2 separate regions of the Homo sapiens genome follow, and region 2 is linked to region 1. A link means that fine-mapping ties the variant in region 1 to the expression of a gene that starts in the linked region. Tissue or cell type: whole blood. Region 1 holds a variant in brackets; the other region holds the start of a gene. All regions are shown on one strand. Distances are from middle to middle.

Region 1 (8,106 bases):
GACATTACTTCATCAGTCAAAGCTGCTTATTGCAAACAAACTGTGAGAAATGTGTTGGGTAAGAATGGTCAGGGACTTGCATCCTTAGCATCCCAGCAGGGATGCTCAGGGCCGCTGGCAGACTGCCTCCCCCAACAATACCTCTCTAGCCCTACATGTTCTTGGCTGAACTTGAATTTTTGCATGAGTATCACTGTGCCAAAATTTCCAGTTCTGGTTTTGATTTTATCCTACTTACAAGCTAATTAGCCCATTACTGTTTCATAGATGCTGGCTTCTGGGTCAGAGACAAAGGTCTTGCATTCTTGGCATAACCAGCAAGAGTACATGGACACTCAGGGCCCATAGTGGGTTGCCTCTCTCAACAATATCCCAAAACATTAGCTACTTAAATGCACTTGTCATGCCTACCCAAGAAGTACTCTGTCAACAGCCACATTAGTAGAAGAAGAAATCAGAAGTTTCCACGGCCTTGCATTTCCAATGGTGGGAGCTTCACTCTTTTCAAACAGCTGTACAAAGAACAAAATCACCACTGCCAGCAAGTAACTCTTTCCTGCTCCAAACACACCTAATTATTTTAAAAGAAGAAAAAAATAAAAAGCATAAAATAAATAAATTTCTTTTTTCTTTTCTTTTTCTTGAGACAGAGTCTCACTCACTCTGTCACCCAGGCTGGAGTGCAGTGACACAATCTCAGCTCACTGTAACCTCCACCTCCCAGGTTCAAGTGATTCTCCTGTCTCAGCCTCCCAAGTAGCTGGGATTACCGGCGTGCACCACCACACCTGGCTAATTTTTGTATTTTTAGTAGAGCCACCATATTGGCAGGCTGGTCTCAAACTCCTGAACTCAAGTGATCCACCTGCCTTGGCCTCCCAAAGTGCTGGAATTACAGGCGTGAGCCACTGTGCCTGGTCAAACATAAATTTCTATAGGTATAACAAATATTTCATCCATCTCTCCCTCCTCCATTTAATTAATTAATGTCTTCAAAATACATTGAGTGTTCACTATGTGCAAAGCACAGGGGATAAATAGATAACCAAAATACTTCCACTTTTAATGAGACCAGCGCCTACTTAAAATGATAAACAAGGAATAATTAGAAATAAGATGGTAAGTAATATTATCTTGGATCAGAGAAGGAAGAAAATCTATCTCTGTTTTGATGGAGGTGGGAGTACTTCCTAAAATTAAGAAGTAGAACTAAGACTTCCAGAATAAGATGTCCAGACTGCTTAGAGATAGGGCCATTCCAGGCAAAGCCATGACAAAGCATGTCGCTGTTAAAATAACTTTTCTATATAACCTCTACCAAATAGGCAAGAGATGAGGCTGATAAGGTAGGCACAGGGGTAAATCACAAAAGCTCTGTTTGCTATAGCTAAACAAAGTTTGAATTTTATCTTAAAGGCCAGCAGATGTCATCTAAAGATTTCAAGCAATGGTTGTTTTTTTTTGTTTTGTTTTGTTTTGAGACAGGGTCTGGCTCTGTTGCCCAGGCTGGAGTGCAGTGGCGCAATCGTGACTCACTGCAACCTCTGCCTCCCAGGCTCAAGCCATCCTCCCACCACAACCTCCAAAGTAGCTGGGACTACAGGTGCATGCCTCCATGTCCAGCTAATTTTTAAATTTTTTTGTAGAGACAGCATTTTGCCATGTTGCCCAGGCTGACCTTGAACTCCTGAGCTTAAGCGAGCTACCCTCCCTGACCTCCCAAAGTGCTGGGATTACAGGTGTGAGGCCAAGCAATGGGTTTGACTTAATCAGATTGTGTTTTTAAAAAACAACTTGAATGAAAATATGAAGTAAGGCAAAACTAGTGGTAGATCAATTAGAAAGTTGTGTGAGATAATTACAACAATAAATGTTAACTTTACTAAGCACCTCCCATGTGCCAAGCACTGTTCTAAGCCCTTTATGTATGTTAACTCATTTAATCCTCCAACCCTATGAGGTGAATGCTATTATGATCTCCATTTTGCAGAGTAGGAAATTAAAGATTAAGAGATATATAACCTGCCCAAAATCATACAGCTAACAAATGATACAGTCAGAACGTAAATTCAGGATTCTAACTCTAGACCCCACACTCTTACCCACTAGGCTATATGGAGGTATGATGAAGGCTTGGATTGAGGGGATACAAGTAAACTGGAGAAGAGACACTCAATATGAAAGATGGATAGAAGCTAGAAGGAACACATCTCAGTGACTAATCTGATGGCGGGAGATGAATAGTGAGAGAATATGAGGAGGATTAAGAGAGAGTCACTTAATCTTGAGAGAAAGAAAAATCTACGATCACTCTCAGATTTGATTTGGTCAACAGGGTGGATATGACATAATTCCTCAAAATAGGACAGAAAAGTAGGATTAGCTTTGGGGTGGAGGTCTATGAGAGAAAATGTGCTACAGAGGCAACAGAGTCCAGATAGAACTATTTACTGTAAGCAGGAGGAAGTAAATCGCCTTCACTGTGACAGAACCAAGCGGTAAGAATAGCTCCAAAATTAGGTAAATTGGAGAAGGAAGGCAGGATATTGAAAGCAGTTTCTGTTATGACCTCCATTTCCTCTTTTAGAGGCAAGATCAAGAGAAAGGACAAGAATGAGGTTATGAGAAGAATTAAGGTTTGTAATCACTGATATAAAGGATAGAAGAGTGAGCTGACTAGGAATAAATAAAAGGTTTTGCTGATCAAGTTAAGTTTACTATAGGAGAGCAACATGTAAACATCTAGATCAATCTGGATACTTTGACCATAAGTTTATAATGCTACTCATTCATCAGATATGCTAATAAGTCTCCCTTTTAGGGTAGTCAGTTCTGTTCTCATCTAACAGTTTACCAAAGTGGGTACAGGTTTAAAAAGTCTACTTAGAGTTATTCTTGAACCTCATTTGACTAGGAAATTATAAAGGAGCAGACTGAGTTACAAAAGCTTACAAATAGAAAACAATTACAATTATTTTCTTTCTTGCTTCTTACCATGTATGATTGTGATAGGGAAGGTATGAGTTTGCAGTTCCTTCACTTCTTCAATGCTTTCATGTGATGCCATCATTTGAGCTATTTGAATTAGAGCTGTAGCTTGATCCTTGTTTAACTTGTGTACCTGAATCAACTCACTAGCTAACTTCAATGTTGCTCCTAGGCTGAGTAGTTCAAATTTTGTACTGACATTTGTGAAGGCTGGTGGGATAAATTTTCTCTTACTGACTCTTTTGTTACTAACTATAGTTGGCGAAGACCTAATAAAAATGAAGCAAATAAACAATTTTAAAAAAAGGGGCATTTGAAAAAGATGAGTAGAATAATTCATAACTTAGCCATCACTTTGTAAGCATTACAGAGAACAGTTTTTTATGGAAATAAACAGTAAGTGGATATATACTGTAAATGGATACATACTCCAATATCGAGGAGGGTAGAAGAGAACTGACGTTTGTTGAATACTTACTAC[A/T]TGCTGACACTTTGTTGAGCATTTTACATATTACTTGATGAAATCTTCACAACAACACTAGGAAATAGTTAGTTAATTATCCCAAGTACAGATACAAGAATATTGAATTTTTTCCCCCAATACCACACCACAAATAAGTGGCGGACTGACTTTAAAACCCATGCTCTATTATACAAACCTAACTTAGATAATTAATCTAGCCCTCATTTCAGGTAAAACTACATCACATGAATTGGTCTTATTTCTATTTCCATGAAAATTCATTTCAAATTGGATAAATAACATAATGAAATCAAAGGATATTTATTTTTTTACCTAGGACTTCATTGTAGTGAGAAAAATAAAACATCACAGGTAGATAATAATATTCCAAATTGAAAACTGGATTTTCCTATCAATTTTAATGCATTTAATATAATATCACTTCCAATTTTTTAAAAAGGGACATGGTGCTTGAGAAATTCAAAATGAGATATGGCTATATCGAGAATAAAATCAGTAGCAATATACACACTGGATTCCAGCTGTAAAATGATTCCTTTAAATGTTAAATAATTTGTAATATAAAAATACAGATAATAAAAAATAAAATCAATACTGAAATGATCCTTAAATTATCTCTTGATGAAGTGAAAATGTACAGTAACATTTATTAGCTCAAACCTTAATAAACAGATGAAAAATAATGCATAATTCCTTTTCTCTTTTTTTTTTTTTTTTTTTTTGAGATAGAGTTTCACTTGTTGCCCAGGCTGGGGTGCAATGGCACCCGGCTCACCGCAACCTCCGCCTCCCAGGTTCAAGCAATTCTCCTGCCTCAGCCTCCCGAATAGCTGTGATTACAGGCATGCGCCAGTATGCCCAGCTAATTTTGTATTTTTAGTAGAGACAGGGTTTCTCCATGTTGGTCAGGCTGGTCTCGAACTCCCGACCTCTGGTGATCTGCCCACCTCGGCCTCCCAAAGTGCTGGGATTACAGGCATGAGCCACTGCACCCAGCCCCTTTTCTCTTTTTAACCACTGACAGAGAATAATGTCATAGTCTGAAAAATAATTACAATTTTATTGGCAACATTTATATACTGTACTTTTATTGAATTTTCATATTTACTTCTGATTACCATTTTTTAATACCAATGACTCAAAGGTAAAAAATGACTTACGTTGTTAACAGGTACTGTGTTAGAGGTAGAGTAGCTGGATTAAAGTAGTCCTGAATGTTTTTCAAAGTAGTCAGTTCTGTGCTAGCATTACAAACCAATAACGCATGGACAACCACTGTACAGAGGATGCAGAAAATAAACATTTGATGTAAATAAAATGGACCATAAAAACTCTGTGTTAAATGCCCACATAACTCAGAGTTCAGCTACTGAATTAAGCACATGACATAAAACAAACCCTTAAACACACACAGAGATCCCAAACTTATATTCATTAAATTACTATGCTATCTGCTCATTCATTTTATAATGGGTATGCATAAACTGCATAATTTAAATCATATTTGGACTTCCATATATCAGCAAATGAACAAGAACACCTGTTTTGAGTTAGTACCTAGTAGCACAACTTCACAGCCAGCAGTTTCCTTTAATCAACATATCACTTGTGCCACAGAGTAGTATTTGTATAATTTTTAAACACTTTCTTGCATTTTTTCCTCAATTACTTCACAGAAATATATGGAAAACAGAAAATCAGAATAATCTAATTAGAAAATTAGAACAAAACAATCCCCCACACACCATTCTTCCTCACAGAAATATCTATATATTCAACTTCATACACATTTTCAGGAACTCACTGTACACAACAGTCGAAACTAGAGTTGGGTCCTTTTTGTTGGCTTTAATCAAACAGTGCATCTTATGTCTATCATTCTTTTTAAATATAAACTAAAATGAGCATAGTAATACTCACTGTTAGTGGGCCAATTAGAAGGGAAATAGCCTTTCAAAGGCAGTATTTCTATCTCATTGATAGATGATGGTCCAAAGAAAGCACTACATGCGATAAAAGTATCCAGCTCAAAGTCTAGGGTTTTTGAAACCACCCAAAGATCATCTGAAAAGACAAACATTTTTAAATATTACACAGACATATACAGTATGGTTTTATATTTTTAGAAATTATATATATTTGCATATGTGTGTACATATATCTATAGTACACATATACATACACAAGATGAGAAGTAAAGTTCTGGAAAGATAATTCATCAACTATCAACCTAAAGGTTGGGAGTGCTCTGAACAAAAGAACCAGCATCAGATTCTGCAATTAATACAGTACCACTTGAATCACACAGAAAAAGACTAAAGAGATGGCAGAATTACAGGGTGAGGAAGAAGGAGGGCAGAGACATCACATGGGAAGATGAGTTTGCTACAATGGAAATCCCTAGGTTTTGCATAAACCCACAGAAGGCCTAAGAAGGCAGGACATGGGCTAGCCCATAAGACTATTTTATTAGTCCGTTCAGGCTGCCATAACAAAATATCTTAAATGAGTAATTTATTAAGATGATTAATATCTTAAATGAGAAATGTATTTCTCATAGCAGTTCTGGAAGCTAAAAAGCCCAAGATCAAGGTGCCAGCACAGCACCAGTGAATAACCAGTGAAGGCTCATTCTCACTTTGCAGATGGTGCAAAGGGGCCAAGGCACTCCCTTTAACCTCTCTTATAAGGCCACTAATCCCATGCAGGATTAAGTTATGCAGCGCCCACATGACTTAATCATTGCCCAAAGGCCCCAGCTCTTAATACACTGGCAATCAAATTTCAAAGTATGTATTTGGCAGTGGGAACGGACGGCAGGGAACACATTTAGACCACAGTAACCACTTAACAAGCTACAAAAAAAAGTAATATTGGACTCAGTTCAGGCTGAGAAAACCAACTGCCAGGGCATCAGCAATTGGAATAGTGCCAAAGATCAGATCAGTAAGGATATTAGCAGTTCTAGCAAGCTGAGAAATAATCACAAAATAGTAATATACTATTCCATTTTCACTAACAAGCTTCTTTCAGGAAAGCTGACCTTCCTCCTCTCTTGTAACTACTTAGTAATTAGTATGTGAATCTTGTGATATTAAAAGTAGGCACAGAGAAGAACAGGGTTTTTAAAAATGAGAAACGTGTGGAAGCCCTGAAAGAGAGACTAAACTGGGCAGCGACTAAGATTTCAATACCCAAATGCATCTGAATTTTACTGGACAAAATCTATCAAATTGGATTCATCTTAAATTTTCTCTGCTGCAAATAGGAATGAGAGATTGAAGTGAAGAAAATAAACTGAAGAGAACCTTAAGACTGAATATATCTAGTAATTATTTAATCATATGCATTTCACAACGGTAACCTATAAGGAATGAAAATGAAAGGTATTAAAGTAAGACTTTCACTTTTAACTGTATATATTTCTTTATACCTTCATTTTTCATTGTATATATTTATGTATTACTTGTTTAATTTTTTTTCCCCCAAATGCTGGCTTGGAGATTTTTAATTTTTAAAAAATGATCACAAATGCTTAATTTCTAAAAATCCAACCACTTCATGAATGTCTTCTATGTGATATACATTTAAAAAATAAAAACATACATAATGTTCCTGCACAAAAGTTTCCTTCGAAGGTCACATTATAAATTCTTTTTACTGAATTGTGTTCGCAGCCGCCACCGCGCCGCCGTCGCTCTCCAACGCCAGCGCCGCCTGTCGCTGACCAAGCTCCAGCCGAAGGAGAAATGAGGTAAGTAAGGAGGTCTCTGTACCATGGCTCGTACAAGGCAGACTGCCCACAAATCAACCGGTGGTAAACCACCCAGGAAGCAACTGGCTACAAAAGCCGCTCGCAAGAGTGTGCCCTCTACTGGAGGGGTGAAGAAACCTCATCGTTACAGGCCTGGTACTGTGGCGCTCCGTGAAATTAGATGTTATCAGAAGTCCACTGAACTTCTGATTCGCTAACTTCCCTTCCAGCGTCTGGTGCGAGAAATTGCTCAGGACTTTAAAACAGATCTGCACTTCCAGAGCGCAGCTATCGGTGCTTTGCAGGAGGCAAGTGAGGCCTATCTGGTTGGCCTTTTTGAAGACACCAACCTGTGTGCTATCCATGCCAAACGTGTAACAATTATGCCAAAAGACATCCAGCTAGCATGCCACATACGTTGAGAATGTGCTTTAGAATCCACTATGATGGGAAACATTTCATTCTCAAAAAAAAAAAAAAAAAAATTCTCTTCTTCCTGTTATTGGTAGTTCTGAACGTTAGGTATTTTTTTTCCATGGGGTCAAAAAAAGAGCTTCTGCACAGCAAAAGAAACTACCATCAGAGTGAACAGGCAACCTACAAAATGGGAGAAAATTTTCACAACCTACTCATCTGACAAAGGGCTAATATCCAGAATCTACGATGAACTCCAACAAATTTATAAGAAAAAAACAAACAACCCCATCAAAAAGTGGGCGAAGGACATGAACAGATGCTTCTCAAAAGAAGACATTTATGCAGCCAAAAAACACATGAAAAAATGCTCACCATCACTGGCCATCAGAGAAATGCAAATCAAAACCACAATGAGATACCATCTCACACCAGTTAGAATGGCAGTCATTAAAAAGTCAGGAAA
Region 2 (8,106 bases), 74 kb after region 1:
CAAAAATCGAGAACCTTGCTCTTGCACCCTATAGTCAACTGCTTTGTACTCACTTTGTTTCCTAAGTGAGTGATCTTCAGAATTCCATCTTGCCACACTTTTGACTTCTTCATCTTTTGATGAGTATATAGAACCTTATTTCCAAAAATACAAAAGAAATGGTTTCCATTTATATATATTTAATGTTATGTATTTTATATATCCTTCCTACATACAAAATATATTTAAGGCACCTTTCATCAAAAAAAGGCACATACACCCATATCAATTTTTTAAATTTTAAAAACAAAAGCACAGATAGCATGACAATAACATTAAATATTAATTAAATGAAATAAATAAGGGAAGGAAGGGAGAGAGAGAAGGAGAGGGAGGGAATAGGGGAGGAAATGGCAGGAGAAGGAAGAAAGGAGAGGAGAAATCCAAGGAAGAAACAAAAAAGATAAATGAGCATTGAAAGTAATTTGAGCTCCCTAGTCATCAATTGGAAGGGAAAAAAATTACTGGATTACACAGTACTAATAATCTGTGCAGTTCTCAAAGTTTGGTCCAGAGACTCCTGGAGGTCTCCAAGACCTTTACAGGTATCTGTGAGGTCAAAACTATTTTCATGATGCTGTCTTTTCATCCTCACTCCTTCAGGGGTGCAGAATGAAGTTTCCCAGGATTATGTATATGCAATATTGTAAGATTCAATTGCAATCTGAATGTAGAAGAAACAAATATGAGAATCCAGTTGTCTTCCATTAAGCCAAATCATAAATACTTTTTACATTTCTGCTTTAACTTCTAATATGAAAAACATCAATAGACGTAAGACCCTATATACACAAGTTATTTGGGGTCAATAATTTTCTAAGTGTTAAAGAGTCCCGAGACCAAATAGTGTGAGAACTGCTGATCTATACAGAAGACGGATGCCAGTTCTTCAAGAGAAAGAAATTGTTTCCCGGTCTCACACTTTCAAAGATTATGTTACAAAGGACTTTGTCTAATACTTGATCTTAGCCAAAAGGCTGAAAAGTGATGATTTTGTGTAACAAATATGAATAGTAGGTAACAGATAGGGTTACCAGATAAAATACTGTGCAATATTTGGGATCCTAATGCTAAAAAAGGTATGCATTGTTTATTTGAAATTCAAATTTAACTGAGTAGCCTGTTTTTTGTTTTGTTTTTGCTAAATCTGGCAACACAGCAAGATGTTTGTGAAACGCCTTTAAAAGAAAGAGACAGAGGAAGGGAATTTCACCAAACTGTGAAAAATGGTAAAACTTACAATAAATTCTTGGCTTTCCATTATTTCTTCTGAAGTTATAAACCAGCTGGGTCCAGAAAATAGGAAATATTCAACTATTTATACCACCTAAAATTAAAAATGACATAAAATTTCAACCCTGATTTTTAAAAAATATCAAATATAATTTTTCTCAATAAACTCCCAACCACAGACATGAATCAAGGAGTTCCAAGATTACCTAACTACCAAGGGAAACAGAGGTGTAATTATCTATCACTGAGGACACAGTAAAAGTGATACCATGCTGTGAAACAAGCATTTTTTCATAAGTAAAGAAAAAACTAAGTAAAATACATAAATTAACTTGTAGTCTGCATTTTTCCAGATGCATAATATGTATCAGAAAACACGAATTTGTCCTCCACATGTTTGGTTCCCTATAGCGCAAATTCAATTTTTAAAGTTTTCTGAATTGCTACGGTTACCACAAGATGGCCCCCTTGTGTTTTAAATTTTTCCTTTCACTTCTTAGCATCAATATACCACAGTATCTAGGACCAATTACATAGTACCTCTACAAGGAAAAATCTTTCCAACACTGTTGCAACAGTTACTGTAGTTGTTATGCTATTGGATAAAACTGTTTTTGTGGGCAAATTTGGAAATCTAAAATCACTGATGGTGATCCCTGAAGAAGTAAACAGAAATGCCAAAGAAACATACTTTCTTTTTTTTCCCCTAAGGTGGTTCTCAAGATGTGACCCCTGGACCAACAGTATCATCTGGGAACTAGTAAGAAATGACCTATTAAGTCAGAAAGTCTGGGGTTGGGGGCCCAGCAGTCTGTGTTTTAAGAAGCCCTCCAAGTGATGCTGATGGACACTCAAGTTTGAGAATACAGATCTAAAAGACCTAGAAGGATTCAATAAAGCTGTAATTGTGATTTCAGTTCCTCTTTTAGACATATAAAATATGCCACTTACATATTATTTATAAGTTACATATATTTATTCAGTACTTACTATTGTGCCAGATATTATGCTAAAGTATTTAAATGGAAACTCTATCCTCCATCTGAAGGAATTTCAGTATGGCGGGGTGATAAACAGTAATTTTAATAAAATAAGGCAGGAATAAGCACAGCAGGGGCACCCAGCTTGGTGTGGATCATCAAACAAGGCTTCTTCAAGGAAGTAAAGTCTAAGCTGTAAGCTGAAATAACCCTTAGTCAAGGGAAGGCCAGTGAAGGTCTTCCCAAACAAGAATTGCAGGCCTGTGATCCCAGCACTTTGGGAGGCCGAGACAGGTGGATCACCTGAGGTCAGGAGTTCGAGACCAGCCTGGCCAACATGGTGAAACCCCTGTCTCTACTAAAAATACAAAAATTAGCCAGGTGTGGTGGTGCGTGCCTATAATCCCAGCTACTTGGGAGGCTGAGGCAGGAGAATCACTTGAACCCAGGAGGCAGAGGCTGCAGTGAGCCGAGATCACGCCACTGCACTCCAGCCTGGGCGACAAGAGCAAAACTGTCTCAAAAAAAAAAAATAAAAGGGCGAGGCGGGGGCGGTGAAGTGCAAGAAAGTGACTGGCATCTTCCCTTGACTAATCAAGGTGATCTGGAGAAAGAATAGGTAAGGGGTATGCAAATGAGATATGCATACTTGCTTCGTGACACAGGTCACAGGACAGAAACCAAACCTACAGAAGGACTGCCTTTCAGAAATATAACTCCTGGCCGGGTGTGGTGACTCACGCCTGTAATCCCAGCACTCTGGGAGGCCATGGCGGGTGGATCATGAGGTCAGGCGCTCGAGACCAGCCTGACCAACATGGTGAAACCCCGTCTCTACTAAAAATACAAAAATTAGCTGGGCATGGTGGCACAGGCCTGTAGTCCCAGCTACTCAGGAGGCTGAGGCAGGAGAATTGCTTGAACCCGGGAGGCGGAGGTTGCAGTGAGCAGAGATCACGCCACTGCACTCCAGCCTGGGCGACAGAGCGAGACTCCATCTCAAAAAAAAAAAAAAAAAAGAAATACAACTTCCACATCCTATCTCCCTCCCCTCCGGCGTACATAAATTGCTGATGCCTAAGAATGCCAAGAAGATAAAAGAGAGATCGAGAAAAACACTCCTGGGCTAGATATGCTGTATACATAGATGAGAATACATGGTACAGACACAGTGCTGGGCATGTGGCAATTATTAATATCAGATCTGTTTAATAGCTACCATTTATTCAGTGCTACCATATGCTAGAAACTGTTAAATGCTTTATTTGGAGGTTTTGTTTCTGTTGGCTTTTTAACTTTTCTTTTTCTTTTACAGAGACAGGGTCTCACTCTGTCACCTAGGCTGGAGTGCAGTGTTGCAATCATAGCTCGCTGTGGCCTCAAACTCCTGGGCTCAAGCAATCCTTCCAGCCTCCCAAAGTGCTATATTATAAACATTATATACATTATATTGTTAATTATATACATTATAATTATTATGTAATTATATAATATATAACTATATTACTGTATTATGTAATATACAATTATATGATTATCGTGTGTAATTATATATATTTATTGATTACATACTATGTATCAGGCAGGAATTGGACGAGATACTTTACATACAGTATTTATCAGTCTCATAATCCTGAAGAATAAGCATTATTACAATTTACAGATTAGGAACCCAGTATTTACTAGTTTAGGATAACTTATATGCTATTTCACAATTGCAAGATAAATTCTCCATTATTTTCCTAAATTGAGATATTACTTCTGGAATGTACAGTTTAAAAAGAACTAAGAAGACTGAAACTCTTAAAGGATGGTTAAATTCGATTATAGGAGAAAACCTAAAAAAAAAAAGCTAACTGGATCTTTTAAAATTTAGAAGAGCTCTAATACTTATTCATTGAAAGTCAACACCCTTTCTTATCTTAGTATTAATCAGAAAAAATTATTTTAGACAACAGCATCATATATATTTAAGTGAGATGCAAAGAGTTTTTTCCAAGTGTTCATCTGTCCACGTCTACCAGACAATTCACCTGTTGACCGACTTCTAATAGGTGAAAGATTAATCTCCAAATAAGTTTTTAAAGACCCCAGATGCTCTGTGATAATTATATACATACATACATACACACAGATATACGTACATACACACATATACATACATATACATTGTGCTACTATATGTACGGACGCAATATATATACATAAAACTCGGTGTTCTCAGTAAAGTATGAGCCATTATTCATTTAAATACTAGATATTTTTCCTTTTTTTTTAAACAAGGAGTATTTTTTGAACCTAAACCTGAACCTCTAAATAGTTCGGATAACAAAGTTTTGGAATCATGAACTCAACATTGTTAACAAACCATCCAGTCCAAATAAACAAAGGAAACCCACATCTCATTTGCCAAGATTCTAAGAACCATAATCCTGTCACCAAATGACAATGGAGACTTGATCCTTTCTCAGTCCTAAATACAAACAGCAAAGCCCTCTTTGGTCCTCATACCTACTCGAAATTGCAAAGCAAGGCCTGGGAAAAACGGTGAAGAGGCACCACTTACTACAAGCAGTCCGAGTAGCTGTGACTGCGACCACCCCAATCCTGGTTCCAAACAGCATCCTTCCCGGTTCTCTTCTTAAGGAGCAGAGTCTTTCGTCCCTTCGCCCCAAATCGCTCAAGTCATTCCTAGGAAATCCCGAGAAACACTTCACCTCACCTGTCAAATTGCACAAAATCCACTTTCGAATTTCTCCCGCGAAACAACGTGACGTCATTAACGCGGGACCTCACCAGATGAGGACCCAAAACTTGGCCCGCCCACCTCCGCCTAAGCCAAAAACCGCCGCTTTCAAATCGCCAATCAAATTCTTCCTTGGCTTCGAGTCTCTCAGCCGGCCGCGCTCTCCGATGCCCAGCCCTCCTGGAACCACCTCGCCTGTGACGTAGGTGGAGCGCGCACTGCCTCCGGGCCCGTCTTTCTCAATTGGGACCGGAAAACGTTGTCGCTCATCCTATGACGCGAAAGTAACCGAGACTATCAGGATCCGGAGACGGAAATGTCCGAAGGCCGCAGTACTTGACCCTGTATTTTGGGAGTCGAACGGAGTAAGTTACAAGCGGCCTATAGGGTCGCACAGCTTGGGCGAAGTCTAATTAACTCTCCGTCCTTTTTCTTGCGGTCCACTCTATCATCTATCGTCCTTCTTACCCCGCCCCCCCGTCCTGCACACCCATCAGTTCCTTGGCCTAGTTATCTATGCGCACGCGCAAAAGTCTTCGGCAGCACTTGTAGTTCCCGTTTTCAGACAGTAAGGGCGCATAGGGGCCCGGCGTGGGGAGGTTTGGGGCGCGCCCGGCCTATGACGGCGTCCTTGCGGAAGTACGGGTGCCGAGAGAAGCAGTAGTCAATAAAGAGAGTGCCGTATTTCGCAGATTGGAGCTGAGCTGTGGCTGCCAGAAGATAGCGAACGTGAGGATTTATATTCTAAAATTATCATCTTCTTTTGCAGGACTCTGCCATCGTCCTCAAAGAGTAAAAAATCCAGTTACGGAAGGGAACTAACACTTGCTAGATATGGTGTGCAGAGTGCGTTTGCAAAGAAACTTAAGAGAAAACAAATGATAGGACACAGGGTGGTGGAAGATCTCAAAGAGTAAGATGCCATTTAACCTGGGCCTTGAAAATTTAATAAGGAAATTTAGACGAGAAGATTCAGACAAAGCAGAACACACAGGCCACTACGTGTTGAGGGACTTGAGTTGTAAGCAGTGACCAGAACAATGATTCTTAACCTGTTGTGGCACACTTCTTTTGAAAACTTAATTATATGGATTAGCTTCTCAGGAAAACGTGCATGTACCTATTAAAACATTTTGCGAGGCTGGGCACGGTGGCTCACGCCTGTAATCCCAGCACTTTGGGAGGCCGACGCGGGAGGATCACTTGAGGTCAGGAGTTCGAGACCAGCCTGGCCAATATGGCAAAATCTCGTCTCTACTAAAAACACAAAAATTAGCGGGGAGTGGTGGTGCACACCTGTAGTCCCAGCTACTCAAGAGGCTTGGTTGGGAGAATCGCTTGAACTCGGGAAGCAGAGATTACAGTGAGCCGGGATCGCGCCACTGCACTGCAGCCTGGGCCACTGAGAGAGGCTGCGTCTCCAAACAAACATTTTTCATATAATTTCCTCAGGAGAAATTACGAAATACTTTTAAATAGCAAACACACACAAATGACTTGGTGTCTTGTCTGACTCACTCTTCCAAGTTATCTATGTCTTTCGTGGTCTTTGAACTATTTTTCAACCCTGTAACTCGCTACAGCAACATGGAAATTAGGTTTGTCCAGTAAAGATGCAATTAATTATTGTCCTGAGCAGTATTTATTAATATTCATTTCAACGTTCCTGATTGCCTGTGTACCTGCTTTTTAAATTCTCCTTTGAACTGGTTTTTAGCACTTAACTGGTTCCCTTATTTACAGTCAAGCACCACATACCGACAGACCGCATGTATGACAGTGGTCCCATAAGATTATAGGTGAGTAATAGGCAATAGTACCTAGGTTTGTGTGAATACATCATAGAATAACTACATACTCAATGATGTACTTACTCACCTGACTGTGCATTTCTCAGAATGTGTCCTTGTCGTTAAGCAACCCATGACTGTGCTTAAATCTTTACCGTGTATTCATTTTATATTTGTACAAGAGTCTTGATTTTACCTTATCTTTAAAATGTATCATTTACAATTTAATGGAGCCCACTAGAATTCTTGTCCAGCCAAAGTTGCATGGACTTCAGATTAAGAATTCCTGAGTCAGAACATAGAGTCCGTGGTGATAAATTGCGGGAAATTCTACCAAAAGGTAGACAATGTGGGATCAAACATACCTGGGACAACTTACTTAGCTAGCTTTGGCCAAGTCACTTAAACCTTTTTGAGTTTTTGTGTTAAGATGGAAGAAACTGCTACCTAGTGGGATTGTGAGGATTTACAAAAGTGTATATAAAGTTACTGGTATTGTTACCCAATAACTTTTATTCTTCATTTAAAGCCAGTTAAATGTTACTTTTTTTTTTTTTTTTTTTGAGACGGAGTCTTGCCCTGCCGCCCAGGTTGGAGTGCAGTGGCACGATCTCGGCTCGCTGCAAGCTCCGCCTCCCGGATTCACACCTTTCTCCTGCCTCAGCCTCCCAAGTAGCTGAGACTACAGGCGCCTGCCACCATGCCCGGCTAATTTTTTTCTTTTCTTTTTTCTTTTTTTGTATTTTTAGTAGAGACGTGGTCTCACCTTGTTAGCCAGGATGGTCTCCATCTCCTGACCTCGTGATCCGCCCGCCTTGGCCTCCCAAAGTGCTGGGATTACAAGCGTGAGCCACCGCGCCTGGCCAAGTGTTACTTTTTTTTTTTAAAACAGTGTTTTCATAAACTGCATATTATGTTACGGGAAGGTGCTAAGGAATTTCTAATGTTGCAAGTTTTGACAGAAGCATCACAAAACCAGGTCTGTGTTTTAGATGGGTTATACATAGGCTCCTGTTGAGAATGGGTGACTTACAGAACAGTTTATAAACTATTGGCATATTCTAGTGACAGTTGTAGCAGTAGTTGTAGAAAACACTGGATGGAGATGAGAGCCATTTCAAAAGTCAAACTGATAGGATTTAACAAGAGATTGGATAGAATAATTGGATAGAATTATTGATAATTGGATAATTATCAATAATTTATAATTATAGATTATCAATTATAGAATTATAATTATCAATTATAGAATAATTGATAATTATAGCCTACGTTTGTGTTTGTTCGTTTTTGAGATGGAGACTGAATCTGTCTCCCA

Evidence for each region. PIP is the estimated chance that this variant, and not a neighbour inherited with it, causes the effect.
Region 2: it holds the start of ZGRF1, and the variant in region 1 is fine-mapped to the expression of ZGRF1 in whole blood (TOPMed, PIP above 0.99).

Annotation. Positions count from the first base shown.
Region 1 is chr4:112,557,739-112,565,844 of GRCh38, forward strand. ZGRF1 (zinc finger GRF-type containing 1) reads right to left here. Exons shown (of 28, transcript NM_018392.5): 17 at 5,393-5,536; 18 at 4,633-4,747; 19 at 2,995-3,257; 20 at 412-571. It also overlaps the pseudogene H3P14. Among named protein-coding and RNA genes, the nearest start is that of NEUROG2, 46 kb to the left of the region's middle. The variant A/T (reference allele first, on the strand shown) is at 3,470.
Region 2 is chr4:112,631,877-112,639,982 of GRCh38, forward strand. It overlaps ZGRF1 (zinc finger GRF-type containing 1), which reads right to left and starts at 5,033. Exons shown (of 28, transcript NM_018392.5): 1 at 4,975-5,033; 2 at 1,280-1,366; 3 at 54-134. The coding sequence starts at 1,300. LARP7 (La ribonucleoprotein 7, transcriptional regulator) reads left to right here and starts at 5,267. Exons shown (of 13, transcript NM_016648.4): 1 at 5,267-5,363. RefSeq lists enhancers at 4,830-5,049, 5,620-5,669, 5,710-5,819.